Homo sapiens: one gene and its partner. The protein of the gene in region 2 purifies or fractionates together with the protein of the main gene of each other region. This does not show direct contact. Each region holds a gene or a part of one and is shown on either strand. Other genes may lie near its edges.

Evidence for each region.
Region 1: the proteins of SIX5 (region 2) and EYA3 purify together in Homo sapiens (affinity purification with western blotting; 2 studies listed by BioGRID and IntAct, with this or other methods). This does not show direct contact.

What each region holds. Positions count from the first base shown.
Region 1 is NC_000001.11:28,085,088-28,093,605, reverse strand, and holds the start of EYA3 (protein phosphatase EYA3), read left to right. Parts: upstream 1-4,995; 5' UTR 4,996-5,082; intron 5,083-8,518. UniProt on the Homo sapiens protein: Tyrosine phosphatase that specifically dephosphorylates 'Tyr-142' of histone H2AX (H2AXY142ph). 'Tyr-142' phosphorylation of histone H2AX plays a central role in DNA repair and acts as a mark that distinguishes between apoptotic and repair responses to genotoxic stress.
Region 2 is NC_000019.10:45,766,092-45,774,694, reverse strand, and holds the start of SIX5 (homeobox protein SIX5), read left to right. Parts: upstream 1-5,442; 5' UTR 5,443-5,850; coding exon 5,851-6,653; exon of another isoform or gene 6,654-6,899; intron 6,900-7,539; coding exon 7,540-8,345; intron 8,346-8,583; coding exon 8,584-8,603. Other genes in the region: DMPK (myotonin-protein kinase), read left to right, coding at 1,943-2,054, 2,767-2,924, 3,030-3,127, 3,299-3,345, 3,639-3,724, 4,055-4,214. UniProt on the Homo sapiens protein: Transcription factor that is thought to be involved in regulation of organogenesis. May be involved in determination and maintenance of retina formation. Binds a 5'-GGTGTCAG-3' motif present in the ARE regulatory element of ATP1A1.

The DNA of each region.
Region 1 (8,518 bases), on a different chromosome or scaffold from region 2:
TAACCATTTTTAATTATACAGTTTAGTAGTGTTAAGTATATTTGCTTTCTATGAAACAGATCTCAACCTTTTCATCTTGGAGAACTGAAACTCTATACTCATTAAAGAAACTCCCTTTTGTCCTTTCTCCCCAACCCTTTATATCCACCATTCTACTTTCCATATCTATGAATTTGACTAATTTATATAACTCATATCAGTGGAATCATATGGTATTTGTCCTTTTGTGAGTGGCTTATTTCATTTAGCATAATGTCCTCAAGATTTATTCATGTTGTAGCATGTGTACATGCTCTTTTTTTTTTTGGTGGAGTCTTGCTCTGTCACCAGGCTGGAGTGCAATGGTGTGATCCCAGCTCACTGCAACCTCCGCCTCCTGGGTTCAATCGATTCTCCTACCTCAGCCTCCTGAGTAGCTGGGACTACAGGCGCACACCACCATGCCCAGCTAATTTTTGTATTTTTAATAGAAACAAGGTTTCACCATGTTGGCCAGGATGGTCTCGATCTCTTGACCTCGTGATCCACCCGCCTCAGCATCCCAAAGTGCTGGGATTACAGGCATGAGCCACTGCACCCAGACAGAATTTCCTGCCTTTTTAAGGTTGCATAGTATTCCATTGTATGTATACCAAATTTGTTTATACATTCATCCATCAATGAACATTTGGGTTGCTTCCATCTCTTAGCTATTGTGAATAGTGCTGTCATGAACATGGGTGTGCAAATATCTCTTGGAGATCCTGCTTTCAATTCTTAGGGATATATACCCAGAAGGGGATTCCTGGATCATACGTTAGTTCTATTTTCAATTTTTTTCAGGAACCACCATATGGCTTTCCATAAGGTTGCACCATTTTACAATCCTACCAACTACTGATTGCTTTTAGAAGGTCAACGATCATGTATATCATAAGAAATTGCCTCAAGTACAATATAGAACATCAACAGAAATAAAATCCAGACCATTGTACTTCATATATGTCAATCAGGAGGGTTTAAATTAATAGCTATTATAAAACACTGATCATACATTCATCATGTCTTTTCAAAATGGAAATATATAAATTAGAGGTCTTATTTTTATTATTTTATTTTATTTTATATATTTGTTTATTTTTCGAGATGGAGTCTCTCACTCTGTCACCCAGGCTGGAGTGCAGTGGTGCCATCTCGGCTTACTGCACGCTCTGCCTCCTGTGATTCTCATGCCTCAGCCTGCTAAGTAGCTGGGACTACAGGTGCCTGCCACCACACCTGGCTAATTTTTGTATGTTTTGTAGAGATGAGGTTTCACCATATTGGCCAGGCTGATCTTGAACTCCTGACCTCAGGTGATCTGCCTGCCTCGGCCTCCCAAAGTGCTAGGATTACAGATGGGAGCCACCGTGCCCGGCCTTTGGATTTTATTATTATTATTATTATTATTATTATTATTATTTTTGAGACAGAGTCTCACTCTGTAGCTCAGGCTGGAGTGCAGTGGCACGATCTCAGCTCACTGCAACCTCCGTCTCCCAGGTCCTGGTTCAAGCAATTCTCTTGCCTCAGCCTCTCGAGAAGCTGGGATTACAGGCACATGCCACCATGCCCAGCTAATTTTTGTATTTTTAGTAGAGACGGGGTTTCACCATGTTGGCCAGGATGGTCTCGATCTCTTGACATCATGATCCACCTGCCTCGGCCTCCCAAAGTGCTGGGATTATAGGCGTGAGCCACCACGCCCAGCCTGGATTTTATTCTTAAATGACTGTAAAGACACTAGAGCACCAGCAAGGTACAGCTTCTGCTCTGGGGAGGAATTTGCATGCTTTCTTGTAGCTCTGTTTTAGAATCATAGCTGTCACATAATGATATTTTGGTAAATGATAGAATGCATATATGATGGTGGTCCCATAAGATTATTTAATATTTTTACTGTACCTTTTCTATGTTTTTATATGTTTAAATACACAAATACTTGCCATTGTGTTACAATTGCCTACAGTATTCAGTACAGTCATATGCTATACAGATTTATAGCCTAGGAGCAATAGGTTATACCATATAGCTTAGGTGTGTATAAGTCCATTTTACGATGTTCGCACAATGATGAAACTACCTAACGAGGGATTTCTCAGAACATATTCCTGTCCTTAAACAGAGTGTATATGTATGTAAATGCTTTAGGCATAACTTTTCTGGAGCTATTGCATTGATTACTCATGGGCTCCCTCTGGTGGAGGTGGTGGCTCAGTTTGCAGGGTTTCAGATCAGGAAAACCAAAGTAAATGAGCAATTTAGCCCTTCATTCAACAAACATTTACTGAGTGCCTACAGTGTGCCAGGCTCCATTCTGGTGCTGAAAAAACATCCGTGAACAAATCGGACAAACATCCATGGACTCATGGAACTTACATTCTGGCAGGGGGAGAGAGACACTAAGCCAAATTTACAAGCAACTTGTTGGATGGGAAAGTACAAAGAGGATGGTAGTGTTCCAATTTTTAATGTAGTGTCAGGGAAGATCTCATTGAGAAAGTGACATGTGAATAAAGATGTAAATGAGGTGAGCGGATGAATGATGCAGGTATCTGGGGGAAGAGCACTCCAGGCAGATGGATTAAAAAGCACAAAGGCCCTGGGCCTACCTGTAGTTTTGAGGAATGGCAGAGGCCAATGTGCTTTAAGGGGAAGGATGACAGAAGGAGTAGGAGTTGAGGTTAGAGCAGAGCTGTACTGGAGGTGTCAAATCTTGAGGGTCCTGTAGACCAATGTAAGGATTTTGGTTTTTACTCTGAAATAGGAATGCATTGGAGGAAGGATATGATCTAATTAGGGTTTTAACAGGAGCCCATTGCTACTATATTAATAGATTGTGGGGGCCGGGCGTGGAGGCTCACACCTGTAATCCCAGCACTTTGGGAGGCTGAGGCGGGTGGATCACTTGAGGCCAGGAGTTCAAGACCAGTCTGGCCAACATGGCAAAACCCCGTCTCTACTAAAAATATAACAATTAGCCGCGCGTGCTGGCGGGCCCCTGTAATCCCAGCTATTCAGGAGGCTGAGGCAGGAGAACCCAGGAGGCAGAGGTTGCACTGAGCCAAGATCAGGCCAGTACACTCCAGCCTGGGTGACAGAGGGAGGCTCTGTCTGAAAAAAAAAAAAAAAAAAAGATTGTGGGAAGGCAAGAGTATAAATAGGGCACTCACAGTCACTGACTGACTGGTTTATACCAACGGAGGCAGTAAATGGTCAGGTTCTGGACAGATTTTGAAGGCAAATCTTGCAGAACTTGCTGATGGAGTACATGTGGGATATGAGAGAGGAGTTAAGGATCTTAGTAAATGATGTTGCTTAGTACATTGTTGTCATCGGAAGAGGTGATCAAATATACAGTCAAAAAATGTAGAAAAAATAGTTTTTTTTCTGGATTTTGTTATTCGTGGTATTTGTGAGCTAATAAAAATGTTTGTAATTTTTCTCATTATAAAAGGTTCACTTTTATATCTAATATTGTATTTGTAATTTTGGATTTTTTTTTTTTTTAGACAGTCTCGCTCTGTTGCCCAGGCTGGAGTGCAGTGGCATAATCATAACTCACCGCAGCCTCTACCTCCTGGGCTCAGTTAGGTGCGTGCCACCACACCTGGCTAATTTTTCTGGGTTTTTTTTGTTGTTGTTTTGCTTTGTTTGTTTTGTAGAGACAGGGTCTAATTTTGTTGCCCAGGTGATCTCCAACTCCGGGGCTCAAGCAACCGGTCGACCTCGGCGTCCCAAAGTGCTAGGATTTCAGGCATGAGCCACTGTGCCTGGCCTTGATTATTTTAAAGAGGGCCCCCAAATTGAATAAACGTCAAGTCTCCACAAAGCCTGAATTCAACCTTGCTTCTAGCCCATACTTGGGTTGTAATTTAAAATTAACGAAACATTTAAGAATTTTGCTTCCGAAAACAGTGTGCACGAAGTGAATTGTAAGCCTAATATAATATTAAGAATAAACTAAATTTGGGGATAAAAAGATCACCTTGGGGCTCACGCCTGTAATCCCAGCACTTTGGGAGGCCAAGGGATCAACCGAGCTCCAGAGTTGGAGACCAGCCTGGGCAACATGGCGAAACCCCGTCTCTACCGAAAAATACAAAAATTAGCCGGGCGTGGTGGTGCGCGCCGGTAGTCTTAGCTACTCGGGAGGCTGAGGTGGGAGGATCACTTGAACCCAGGAGGCGGGGGTTGCAGTGAGCCGAGATCGCGCCACTGCACTCCAGCCTGGGCGACAGAGCAAGACTCTGTCTCAAAAAAAGAAAAAAAAAAAGGGATGGGCGCGGTGGCTCACGCCTGTAATCTCAGCACTTTGGGAGGCCCAGGCGGGCGGATCACCTGAGGTCGGGAGTTCAAGACCAGCCTGACCAACATGGAGAAACCCCGTCTCTACTAAAACTACAAAATTAGCCGGGCGTGGTGGCACATGCCTGTAATCCCAGCTACTCGAAAGGCTGAGGCAGGAGGATCGCTTGAACCCGGGAGGCGGAGGTTGCAGTGAGCCGAGATCGCGCCATTGCACTCCAGCCTGGGCAACAAGAGCGAAACTCCGTCTCAAAAAAAAAAAAAAAAAAAGATCACCTTGGGCTAGCCTCCCAAATGTCTTCCAAAACTTCCCACTCATTCTCCTTCCCAGTTTTTCTAAATCTACCAAATGCACCCAACACTTCTTACGTTCCTTTTAGCCAGGTAGGGATTACGCGCATTTTTAAAGACCTCCTTAAAAGTGAAGGCTGTAGTACCGTCAGGACTGCCTAGCGCTCACCCAGAAGCTGCTTGTCTCCGAGGCACTAAGAGGGGCGTGGCCATGGGCGTGGCTCGCCGGGCCGGCGGAGTGGGCGGAGCCTAAAAGCTTCCCCGCCCGGTCAGACTCAACACATGCGCCCAGAGGTTTCTAGTGGAACGAGGTGTGGATTGTGAGGTGACTCTGGCCGCTTACTTCCGGTTCCTAGCGATGCGCATCCGGGTCACGCTAACGCCGCGGTTTCCTCCGCTCGATTGGTTCTACTGTGGGTCTGGACTGATCTCCATGTCCTGTTGTGGGGCTTTTACAGCCTTTGGGTGAGTCTCAGCTGCCAACAGGGTCTGAGCGCAGCCGGGCGAGCACAGCGTGAAGGGGGATGGGTCTAGAGTTCTGCCTCGGTCCTTGTGGGTGGGAGTCTCTTCGCCTGTCCCTTGTCACTGCAGTGCTTCACTCACCTCAGCCCTTTCCTTCACGCTGGCCTCGCCTTATTCACCTCAGCTTAGCCTTCTCGCGCTTCCGTGCCTCTGTCGCCTCGCTGTTTTTCCTCAGCCTCATCAGTCCTTTTCCAACCTCGGTTTCTTGCCTTACGCCTCAGCGCTTCTCTCAGCCACTGCCTCTCCTTTTTTCTCCTCCTCCCTTCTTTTAGAACCTCTTTTCCCCTACCCCTGATCTGGGATCTCAGCGTTCTTTCACCTAGCGAGACGGCCCAGCTTCTCATTGTGCTCACTCTTCACCACGAGAAACTGAGCCTCTCCCTAGGGTCCTAGTTCCTTGTCCCCCAACTTTCTTCAGCTTTGATCCTTCCTCCTGGGACCAGTAGGTGACAGTGCTTCTCCTGGGGTTCTTCTGCCTGTCCTTAGCTAGAGGAGAGCTTTGCCAAAGCCCCGAAATGGGAAGACTTCCCCAGCCTGGGGGAAGTTTTGCCTTAAGGCGCCGGGTTAGACTGAACTCTGGTAGCTTCCATAGTTAGGGTACAACAAAGGCGTTCCTAGTTCTTCGCTTTACCTCAGTTTTGGGGCTCTCTCAAGAGCAGCTAACAGGTGGCAGGCACACGGTACTGCTAGCAGTTGGGCTGGCGCGATCTTGTTAATTGACAAGTCATGAAGAAGTTCTGTCAGTTTTGTGTTCCCATGAGAATGGATGTGCACAGCTGAGGCAAAAACGCCAATATTTTGGGACGTTCAGCTCTGTTTTCGGCATGGACGCTTCTTACAGGACACTTGTGATGATAGAGGACAGAATTTGTGGAGAGATCATTAGCCCCAGATTTATGAATTTATTGTGTTGTTTCCGAAAAGTGGTCTGCTGAAGAGTTCACTATAGTAATTTCAAAGTAATCTTTAAACTTAGTATGCACATATGCATTTTTTCATTTTTACTGTATTAAGTTTTCTATTTGTCTTCCTCTTCCTTCATTAGCCAGACTTTACTTAGAATTACATTACTTAGAAGTACATTACTTAGAATATTCTTCTAACTTTTGTATTTTTTTTTCCTTACCATTTCCACCTTTGTAGTAAAACTATCATTTTCTCATTTTGAGATTTAGGGCACCTTTCTTAAATTTCCCTAGAGGTTTAAAGTCATTTATAACATGAAGGAATTGCATTTAATAATGGTTAGTGCTCCCTTTCCCAAATTTTGTGATCTAGAGTATAGGCTTGGGTAATCTTTATTTTTTCCCGATGTTTATAGTGTATATCTAGCACTTGATTGCAGCGGTTTTTGTGTCATCAGTTTCTGTAATCTATAAATTGTGCTTTAAAATGTAGTACTTCAGTATGAACTTAAATACAGCTTTGAGCACCTGCTTATCTTTTGGCTAATTAGCTATAGAAAAATCTTCATTATATGATACATATACATATAAGAGTGTATAGTCCTTGGCTTATTCCAAAATTGGGCTCTCTTCAGCTGTTTTTAGCAAAGGACTTTGGAGCTTGGCCATGTTAGTCCTAGAAGCCACGGAGAAGGACCCTTCTGATTGGCTTTCAGGACTTATCTAACTGCTAAGTGAAGCCTCTTTGAAAGTTTCTTATGTGTACCTCCTCCCCACTACCTAGCTCTAGCTTCTGTCCAACCTGGCCTATTTTCCATCCTTCAAAACAAACCCCAATGTGTATGGCTTACTCCAGCTGCTTCCTTACCTTCAGGTTTGTGGGCTTCATTTAAGCCATGGGAATGCCAGCTTAATTAATGCAGATTAAGATAAGAACATTAAACCCCAAAAATGATGGGAAATCACTCTGTCTTCAAAACAATAGAAAATAATAAAATCTAGTTATAAAGATTATATACCATTGTCACTAGTAAGAAGTGGCACTCTTATTTACAAAACATAAAGAAATTAGGGTTTAGGTCTGGCATGGTGGTTCACACCTATAATCCCCAGCACTTTGGAAGGCCAAGGCCAGAGGATTGGCCAGGAGTTCGAGACCAACCTGGGCAACATAGACAAAATTAGCTTGGTGTAGTGGTGTGCGCCTGTAGTCCCAACTACTCAGGAGGTTGAGGTTGGAGGATTGCTTGAGCCCAAGATTTTGAGGTTACAGTGAGCTGTGATCACATCACTGCGCTCCACAAGGCAACAGAGTGAGACTCTCTTAAAAAAAAAAAAGAAATTACAACTTAAACAGTTAATTTCCAAGGTCATTTTTTTTTAAGTCAAGAAGTCCTATACATGCTCTCAAGAGTAGCGAGTGTTAATTCCATTAAAGCTGTAGGCTGGAAAGCACAATATAGTATTTAGTGGGTCATTTCAGTATATGTCATATATGAATGAGACTATTAGGATAAGAAATCTGTGACATGGATTTTAAAATCCAAAGCCGAAGTCATTTTGCCTTCAAAGAGTGACTAGAGAAAGAAACTGTTTTGTGCAGAAGTAGAAGTTGAAAAGTTTTAGGAGTCTTTTGTTCTTCTAAAATGACTTTGGCCTGTATATTCTGCATTGAAGCCATTAAATGAAATGAGCATCCTGTGTAGTCATTGGAGCAGTTGTGTTCCATGCTGCTGATCTTCAAGCCTGACCCTCCACCTAGCTGCCAAACCAAAACAAACAAACAAACAAACAAACAAACCCAGAGACAGCTTAATGTGTGTTTGTTTTTAAAGCTCAGGAAAAAAAATTACCGTTGATTTTCTACAAAAATTTCTACTTTAGTTGGTAGCCCTAAGGGCTCAATTTAAAATATGTTTCTGCATATTAGTTTTAGGCTTACCAAGTTTTCTTATTTTGGTTTGGTTTGATTATTTTTGGTTCTTTTTTGTCATTTTATTTGCTAATGTACTTTGTCTTACTTGTTTTGTTTGTTTGTTTTTTGGTCCTTGAATCCTGTGTTTACGGAGATGTAGTTTTTTGTTTGTTTGTTTGTTTTTTTGAGACAAAAAACAAAACAAAACCTTGCTCTGTTGGCCAGGCTGTAGTGCAGTGGCACGATCTCGGCTCACTGCAGCCCTGACCTCCTGGGCTGAAGTCATCCTCCCACAGCCTCCAGAATAGCTGGGACTACAGGTTCATGCCACCATACCTGGCTAATTTTGAAATTTTTTTGGAGAGGCAGAGTTTCACCATGTTGCCCAGGCTGATCTCAAACTCCTGGACTCAAGCAATCTGCCTGCCTCGGGCTCTCAAAGTGCTGAGATTAAAGGTGTGAGCCACCACCCACAGGCGGCTGATGTAGTTTTGAAAATTTAAGAAACAAAGTATACCTCCAACAAGTCCTTGTCACTTGTACCTTGTAGCATTATGGT
Region 2 (8,603 bases):
CTGTAGTACACAGAGCCACAGGACTTCAGAACTTGGAAAATATGAAGTTTAGACTTTTACAATCAGTTGTAAAAGAATGCAAATTCTTTGAATCAGCCATATAACAATAAGGCCATTTAAAAGTATTAATTTAGGCGGGCCGCGGTGGCTCACGCCTGTAATCCTAGCACTTTGGGAGGCCAAGGCAGGTGGATCATGAGGTCAGGAGATCGAGACCATCCTGGCTAACACGGTGAAACCCCGTCTCTACTAAAAATACAAAAAAATTAGCCGGGCATGGTGGCGGGCGCTTGCGGTCCCAGCTACTTGGGAGGCGAGGCAGGAGAATGGCATGAACCCGGGAGGCGGAGCTTGCAGTGAGCCGAGATCATGCCACTGCACTCCAGCCTGGGCGACAGAGCAAGACTCCGTCTCAAAAAAAAAAAAAAAAAAGTATTTATTTAGGCCGGGTGTGGTGGCTCACGCCTGTAATTCCAGTGCTTTGGGAGGATGAGGTGGGTGGATCACCTGAGGTCAGGAGTTCGAGACCAGCCTGACCAACGTGGAGAAACCTCATCTCTACTAAAAAACAAAATTAGCCAGGCGTGGTGGCATATACCTGTAATCCCAGCTACTCAGGAGGCTGAGGCAGGAGAATCAGAACCCAGGAGGGGGAGGTTGTGGTGAGCTGAGATCGTGCCATTGCATTCCAGCCTGGGCAACAAGAGTGAAACTTCATCTCAAAAAAAAAAAAAAAAAAGTACTAATTTACAGGCTGGGCATGGTGGCTCACGCTTGGAATCCCAGCACTTTGGGAGGCTGAAGTGGACGGATTGCTTCAGCCCAGGAGTTCAAGACCAGCCTGAGCAACATAATGAGACCCTGTCTCTACAAAAAATTGAAAAAATCGTGCCAGGCATGGTGGTCTGTGCCTGCAGTCCTAGCTACTCAGGAGTCTGAAGTAGGAGAATCACTTGAGCCTGGAGTTTGAGGCTTCAGTGAGCCATGATAGATTCCAGCCTAGGCAACAAAGTGAGACCTGGTCTCAACAAAAGTATTAATTACACAAATAATGCATTGCTTATCACAAGTAAATTAGAAAATACAGATAAGGAAAAGGAAGTTGATATCTCGTGAGCTCACCAGATGGCAGTGGTCCCTGGCTCACACGTGTACTGACACATGTTTAAATAGTGGAGAACAGGTGTTTTTTTGGTTTGTTTTTTTCCCCTTCCTCATGCTACTTTGTCTAAGAGAACAGTTGGTTTTCTAGTCAGCTTTTATTACTGGACAACATTACACATACTATACCTTATCATTAATGAACTCCAGCTTGATTCTGAACCGCTGCGGGGCCTGAACGGTGGGTCAGGATTGAACCCATCCTCTATTAGAACCCAGGCGCATGTCCAGGATAGCTAGGTCCTGAGCCGTGTTCCCACAGGAGGGACTGCTGGGTTGGAGGGGACAGCCACTTCATACCCCAGGGAGGAGCTGTCCCCTTCCCACAGCTGAGTGGGGTGTGCTGACCTCAAGTTGCCATCTTGGGGTCCCATGCCCAGTCTTAGGACCACATCTGTGGAGGTGGCCAGAGCCAAGCAGTCTCCCCATCAGGTCGGCCTCCCTGTCCTGAGGCCCTGAGAAGAGGGGTCTGCAGCGGTCACATGTCAAGGGAGGAGATGAGCTGACCCTAGAACATGGGGGTCTGGACCCCAAGTCCCTGCAGAAGGTTTAGAAAGAGCAGCTCCCAGGGGCCCAAGGCCAGGAGAGGGGCAGGGCTTTTCCTAAGCAGAGGAGGGGCTATTGGCCTACCTGGGACTCTGTTCTCTTCGCTCTGCTGCTCCCCTTCCTCAAATCAGGAGGTCTTGGAAGCAGCTGCCCCTACCCACAGGCCAGAAGTTCTGGTTCTCCACCAGAGAATCAGCATTCTGTCTCCCTCCCCACTCCCTCCTCCTCTCCCCAGGGACAGTGAGGTCCCAGGCCCCACACCCATGGAACTGGAGGCCGAGCAGCTGCTTGAGCCACACGTGCAAGCGCCCAGCCTGGAGCCCTCGGTGTCCCCACAGGATGAAACAGTAAGTTGGTGGAGGGGAGGGGGTCCGTCAGGGACAATTGGGAGAGAAAAGGTGAGGGCTTCCCGGGTGGCGTGCACTGTAGAGCCCTCTAGGGACTTCCTGAACAGAAGCAGACAGAAACCACGGAGAGACGAGGTTACTTCAGACATGGGACGGTCTCTGTAGTTACAGTGGGGCATTAAGTAAGGGTGTGTGTGTTGCTGGGGATCTGAGAAGTCGATCTTTGAGCTGAGCGCTGGTGAAGGAGAAACAAGCCATGGAAGGAAAGGTGCCAAGTGGTCAGGCGAGAGCCTCCAGGGCAAAGGCCTTGGGCAGGTGGGAATCCTGATTTGTTCCTGAAAGGTAGTTTGGCTGAATCATTCCTGAGAAGGCTGGAGAGGCCAGCAGGAAACAAAACCCAGCAAGGCCTTTTGTCGTGAGGGCATTAGGGAGCTGGAGGGATTTTGAGCAGCAGAGGGACATAGGTTGTGTTAGTGTTTGAGCACCAGCCCTCTGGTCCCTGTGTAGATTTAGAGGACCAGACTCAGGGATGGGGCTGAGGGAGGTAGGGAAGGGAGGGGGCTTGGATCATTGCAGGAGCTATGGGGATTCCAGAAATGTTGAGGGGACGGAGGAGTAGGGGATAAACAAGGATTCCTAGCCTGGAACCAGTGCCCAAGTCCTGAGTCTTCCAGGAGCCACAGGCAGCCTTAAGCCTGGTCCCCATACACAGGCTGAAGTGGCAGTTCCAGCGGCTGTCCCTGCGGCAGAGGCTGAGGCCGAGGTGACGCTGCGGGAGCTCCAGGAAGCCCTGGAGGAGGAGGTGCTCACCCGGCAGAGCCTGAGCCGGGAGATGGAGGCCATCCGCACGGACAACCAGAACTTCGCCAGGTCGGGATCGGGGCCGGGGCCGGGGCCGGGATGCGGGCCGGTGGCAACCCTTGGCATCCCCTCTCGTCCGGCCCGGACGGACTCACCGTCCTTACCTCCCCACAGTCAACTACGCGAGGCAGAGGCTCGGAACCGGGACCTAGAGGCACACGTCCGGCAGTTGCAGGAGCGGATGGAGTTGCTGCAGGCAGAGGGAGCCACAGGTGAGTCCCTCATGTGTCCCCTTCCCCGGAGGACCGGGAGGAGGTGGGCCGTCTGCTCCGCGGGGCGTGTATAGACACCTGGAGGAGGGAAGGGACCCACGCTGGGGCACGCCGCGCCACCGCCCTCCTTCGCCCCTCCACGCGCCCTATGCCTCTTTCTTCTCCTTCCAGCTGTCACGGGGGTCCCCAGTCCCCGGGCCACGGATCCACCTTCCCATGTAAGACCCCTCTCTTTCCCCTGCCTCAGACCTGCTGCCCATTCTGCAGATCCCCTCCCTGGCTCCTGGTCTCCCCGTCCAGATATAGGGCTCACCCTACGTCTTTGCGACTTTAGAGGGCAGAAGCCCTTTATTCAGCCCCAGATCTCCCTCCGTTCAGGCCTCACCAGATTCCCTCCGGGATCTCCCTAGATAACCTCCCCAACCTCGATTCCCCTCGCTGTCTCTCGCCCCACCGCTGAGGGCTGGGCTGGGCTCCGATCGGGTCACCTGTCCCTTCTCTCTCCAGCTAGATGGCCCCCCGGCCGTGGCTGTGGGCCAGTGCCCGCTGGTGGGGCCAGGCCCCATGCACCGCCGCCACCTGCTGCTCCCTGCCAGGGTACGTCCGGCTGCCCACGCCCCCCTCCGCCGTCGCGCCCCGCGCTCCACCCGCCCCTTGCCACCCGCTTAGCTGCGCATTTGCGGGGCTGGGCCCACGGCAGGAGGGCGGATCTTCGGGCAGCCAATCAACACAGGCCGCTAGGAAGCAGCCAATGACGAGTTCGGACGGGATTCGAGGCGTGCGAGTGGACTAACAACAGCTGTAGGCTGTTGGGGCGGGGGCGGGGCGCAGGGAAGAGTGCGGGCCCACCTATGGGCGTAGGCGGGGCGAGTCCCAGGAGCCAATCAGAGGCCCATGCCGGGTGTTGACCTCGCCCTCTCCCCGCAGGTCCCTAGGCCTGGCCTATCGGAGGCGCTTTCCCTGCTCCTGTTCGCCGTTGTTCTGTCTCGTGCCGCCGCCCTGGGCTGCATTGGGTTGGTGGCCCACGCCGGCCAACTCACCGCAGTCTGGCGCCGCCCAGGAGCCGCCCGCGCTCCCTGAACCCTAGAACTGTCTTCGACTCCGGGGCCCCGTTGGAAGACTGAGTGCCCGGGGCACGGCACAGAAGCCGCGCCCACCGCCTGCCAGTTCACAACCGCTCCGAGCGTGGGTCTCCGCCCAGCTCCAGTCCTGTGATCCGGGCCCGCCCCCTAGCGGCCGGGGAGGGAGGGGCCGGGTCCGCGGCCGGCGAACGGGGCTCGAAGGGTCCTTGTAGCCGGGAATGCTGCTGCTGCTGCTGCTGCTGCTGCTGCTGCTGCTGCTGCTGCTGCTGCTGCTGCTGCTGGGGGGATCACAGACCATTTCTTTCTTTCGGCCAGGCTGAGGCCCTGACGTGGATGGGCAAACTGCAGGCCTGGGAAGGCAGCAAGCCGGGCCGTCCGTGTTCCATCCTCCACGCACCCCCACCTATCGTTGGTTCGCAAAGTGCAAAGCTTTCTTGTGCATGACGCCCTGCTCTGGGGAGCGTCTGGCGCGATCTCTGCCTGCTTACTCGGGAAATTTGCTTTTGCCAAACCCGCTTTTTCGGGGATCCCGCGCCCCCCTCCTCACTTGCGCTGCTCTCGGAGCCCCAGCCGGCTCCGCCCGCTTCGGCGGTTTGGATATTTATTGACCTCGTCCTCCGACTCGCTGACAGGCTACAGGACCCCCAACAACCCCAATCCACGTTTTGGATGCACTGAGACCCCGACATTCCTCGGTATTTATTGTCTGTCCCCACCTAGGACCCCCACCCCCGACCCTCGCGAATAAAAGGCCCTCCATCTGCCCAAAGCTCTGGACTCCACAGTGTCCGCGGTTTGCGTTGTGGGCCGGAGGCTCCGCAGCGGGCCAATCCGGAGGCGTGTGGAGGCGGCCGAAGGTCTGGGAGGAGCTAGCGGGATGCGAAGCGGCCGAATCAGGGTTGGGGGAGGAAAAGCCACGGGGCGGGGCTTTGGCGTCCGGCCAATAGGAGGGCGAGCGGGCCACCCGGAGGCACCGCCCCCGCCCAGCTGTGGCCCAGCTGTGCCACCGAGCGTCGAGAAGAGGGGGCTGGGCTGGCAGCGCGCGCGGCCATCCTCCTTCCACTGCGCCTGCGCACGCCACGCGCATCCGCTCCTGGGACGCAAGCTCGAGAAAAGTTGCTGCAAACTTTCTAGCCCGTTCCCCGCCCCTCCTCCCGGCCAGACCCGCCCCCCCTGCGGAGCCGGGAATTCCGAGGGGCGGAGCGCAGGCCGAGATGGGGAATGTGGGGGCCTGCAGAGGACCCTGGAGACGGAGGCGTGCAGAAGCTCAGTCTCGGGGCGGAGGCTTCGCGCCCTTAGTCCTCCTGGACGGCCCGTTACCTTCTGCGTTGTCCCGATGGGGAAACTGAGGCCCTGAGCCAGAAGCACACGCTGGGGGGAGGCAGAAAGCGCGGCCAGAGGCGGAGGGAAAACAAAGGGAGAATCACAGACAGACGGGAGGGGGACGGACACACACAAGGGGACAGAGACCCGAGTGGAGAGCTGGATCTCGCCTTCCCGGCGTGGGGCGCAGGGTCGGCCAGAAAGAAGATCGAGAAGAGCGGGGAGTGGGGGCGAAAAGGGGGGACAGGTGGGGGAGGAGGCTGGGGAAAGCCCGAGGGAGGAAGAGAGGGAGGGAGGAACTTCCCAAAGTTGCAAAACATGGCTACCTTGCCTGCGGAGCCGAGCGCGGGGCCGGCGGCTGGGGGGGAGGCGGTGGCGGCGGCGGCGGCGACCGAAGAGGAGGAGGAGGAAGCGCGCCAGCTCTTGCAGACTTTGCAGGCGGCCGAGGGTGAGGCGGCGGCGGCGGCCGGGGCCGGGGCGGGCGCAGCGGCTGCGGGAGCTGAGGGCCCGGGATCCCCGGGCGTCCCCGGGTCGCCCCCCGAGGCCGCTTCCGAACCGCCCACGGGCCTCCGCTTCTCGCCCGAGCAGGTGGCGTGCGTCTGCGAGGCGCTGCTCCAGGCGGGCCACGCCGGCCGCTTGAGCCGCTTCCTGGGCGCACTGCCCCCGGCCGAGCGCCTACGTGGCAGCGACCCGGTGTTGCGCGCGCGGGCCCTGGTGGCCTTCCAGCGGGGCGAGTACGCCGAGCTCTACCGGCTACTCGAGAGCCGCCCCTTCCCCGCCGCCCACCACGCCTTCCTGCAGGACCTCTACCTGCGCGCGCGCTACCATGAGGCCGAGCGGGCCCGCGGCCGCGCGCTTGGCGCAGTGGACAAGTATCGACTGCGCAAGAAGTTCCCGCTGCCCAAGACCATCTGGGACGGCGAGGAGACAGTCTACTGCTTCAAGGAGCGCTCCCGCGCAGCGCTCAAGGCCTGCTACCGCGGCAACCGCTACCCCACGCCGGACGAGAAGCGCCGCCTGGCCACACTCACCGGCCTGTCGCTCACGCAGGTCAGCAACTGGTTCAAGAACCGGCGACAGCGCGACCGGACCGGGGCCGGAGGCGGCGCGCCCTGCAAGAGGTGAGGGGCCTCGGGCGGCGCAAGTCCAGCTCTCCCGGGGACATCCCGTCCACCAGCCCTCTTCCCCCGTGCCCACTGCTGGGGCCGGCGCGCCGAGGTCCTCGGACATCTCCCGGGACCAGCTCACAATCTCAGGCGCCCGCGGGGCGCGGGGACTAAGTGTGGACGGGACAGGCACCCGCCCGGGCCCTCTCCCCGCACGCGTCTCCTCTTCCAGCGGCTCCATTCCGAGCTCCTTCCCAAATCCCATCGGTGTTGGGGAATCACACTGCGGGGGGCACTAGAGGGACTGAGGAAAAAGGACAGGGCCTGTGGCCACTCCACTCCGCGTAGGGGCTGCCTCCCAGCCCCCTTTCTTCACTGACCGTTACTCTTACCCACCCGCCCCCACACTCCCTCCGGGCCCGGACGGCGTGGTCCGTCTTCTGCCTTTGTTGTGAAACGTGAACCTTTCCCAGCTCCGGTTTCCCTGTAACCCAAACCCTTCTCCTCCCACCCTGAGCGCCGGCCTCTCCCTTCTCTGACGCCCCGCGGGGAGGGCACCGGGAACTGGGCTGGCGGCTGCTGCTCCCTCTCTCCAGGCCACTCGCCCGCTTTCCGCCCAACCAAGGAACTTTTAGGGCAACCTGGGAGCTCAGCCTCTGGGGACCCGAGGCCGAGGTGGGGGAGAGCAAGGGCCTCTTCCCTCCCCAGCGCTTCTCTGCAGTGGTGTCCACGCAGGGCTTGCAAAAGGCCCTGGAGTTTGGAGTGGTCTCAGAGAGGCGTCATAACCCCTGGAATGATCCACCGAAACTTGGGCCAGGGAAAGGTGGGGGAGCAGCTGGCTGGCTATGCGGGAGGCCCCACAGGCTAAGGGACCCCAGCTGACAGCCATTTCTCCGGCCAGCGAGTCTGATGGGAATCCCACGACTGAGGACGAGTCCAGCCGAAGTCCTGAGGACCTGGAGAGAGGGGCGGCCCCAGTGTCCGCCGAGGCCGCTGCCCAGGGCTCCATATTCCTGGCAGGGACCGGCCCTCCCGCGCCTTGCCCGGCTTCCTCCTCCATCCTGGTGAACGGGAGCTTCCTGGCAGCCAGCGGCTCCCCAGCAGTGCTCCTCAACGGGGGCCCCGTCATCATCAACGGCCTGGCCCTGGGCGAGGCCTCCAGCCTGGGCCCGCTGCTGCTCACTGGGGGCGGGGGTGCCCCTCCACCGCAGCCCAGCCCTCAGGGGGCCAGCGAGACCAAGACCTCTCTGGTCCTGGACCCTCAGACAGGGGAGGTGCGGCTGGAGGAGGCTCAGTCGGAGGCCCCTGAGACCAAAGGGGCCCAGGTGGCTGCTCCGGGACCAGCCCTTGGAGAGGAGGTCCTGGGGCCCCTGGCCCAAGTGGTGCCTGGCCCCCCGACGGCTGCCACCTTTCCTCTGCCCCCGGGGCCAGTGCCTGCTGTGGCTGCCCCACAAGTGGTACCGCTCTCCCCACCCCCGGGGTATCCCACGGGCCTGAGCCCCACCTCCCCACTATTGAACCTGCCCCAGGTAGTACCCACCTCACAGGTGGTGACCCTGCCCCAGGCTGTGGGGCCCCTGCAGCTGTTGGCAGCCGGGCCAGGCAGCCCTGTGAAGGTGGCAGCTGCAGCAGGCCCTGCCAATGTGCACCTCATCAACTCCGGGGTGGGCGTGACTGCCCTGCAGCTGCCTTCGGCCACTGCCCCAGGTACCCCCATCTCCCTCCCTCAGGCCTAGGTGAGAGCCGGGGAGGGGTGCAGTCATCTCGGAGAGGGAGGGGCTGTCCCTGGGCTCCTGGAGGGCATCTCATCCCTGGCAAGTCCCAGTGCCCCAAGGCCCACCACAAGGCTCCCTCCGCCCGCCCTCCAGCTGCACAGTCTCCACTTCTCTCTGGCTTGGCCTGCTCTCCTGGCTCTCACCTGCGCTCGGTCCCTCTCTCCCCACAGGAAACTTCCTCCTGGCCAAC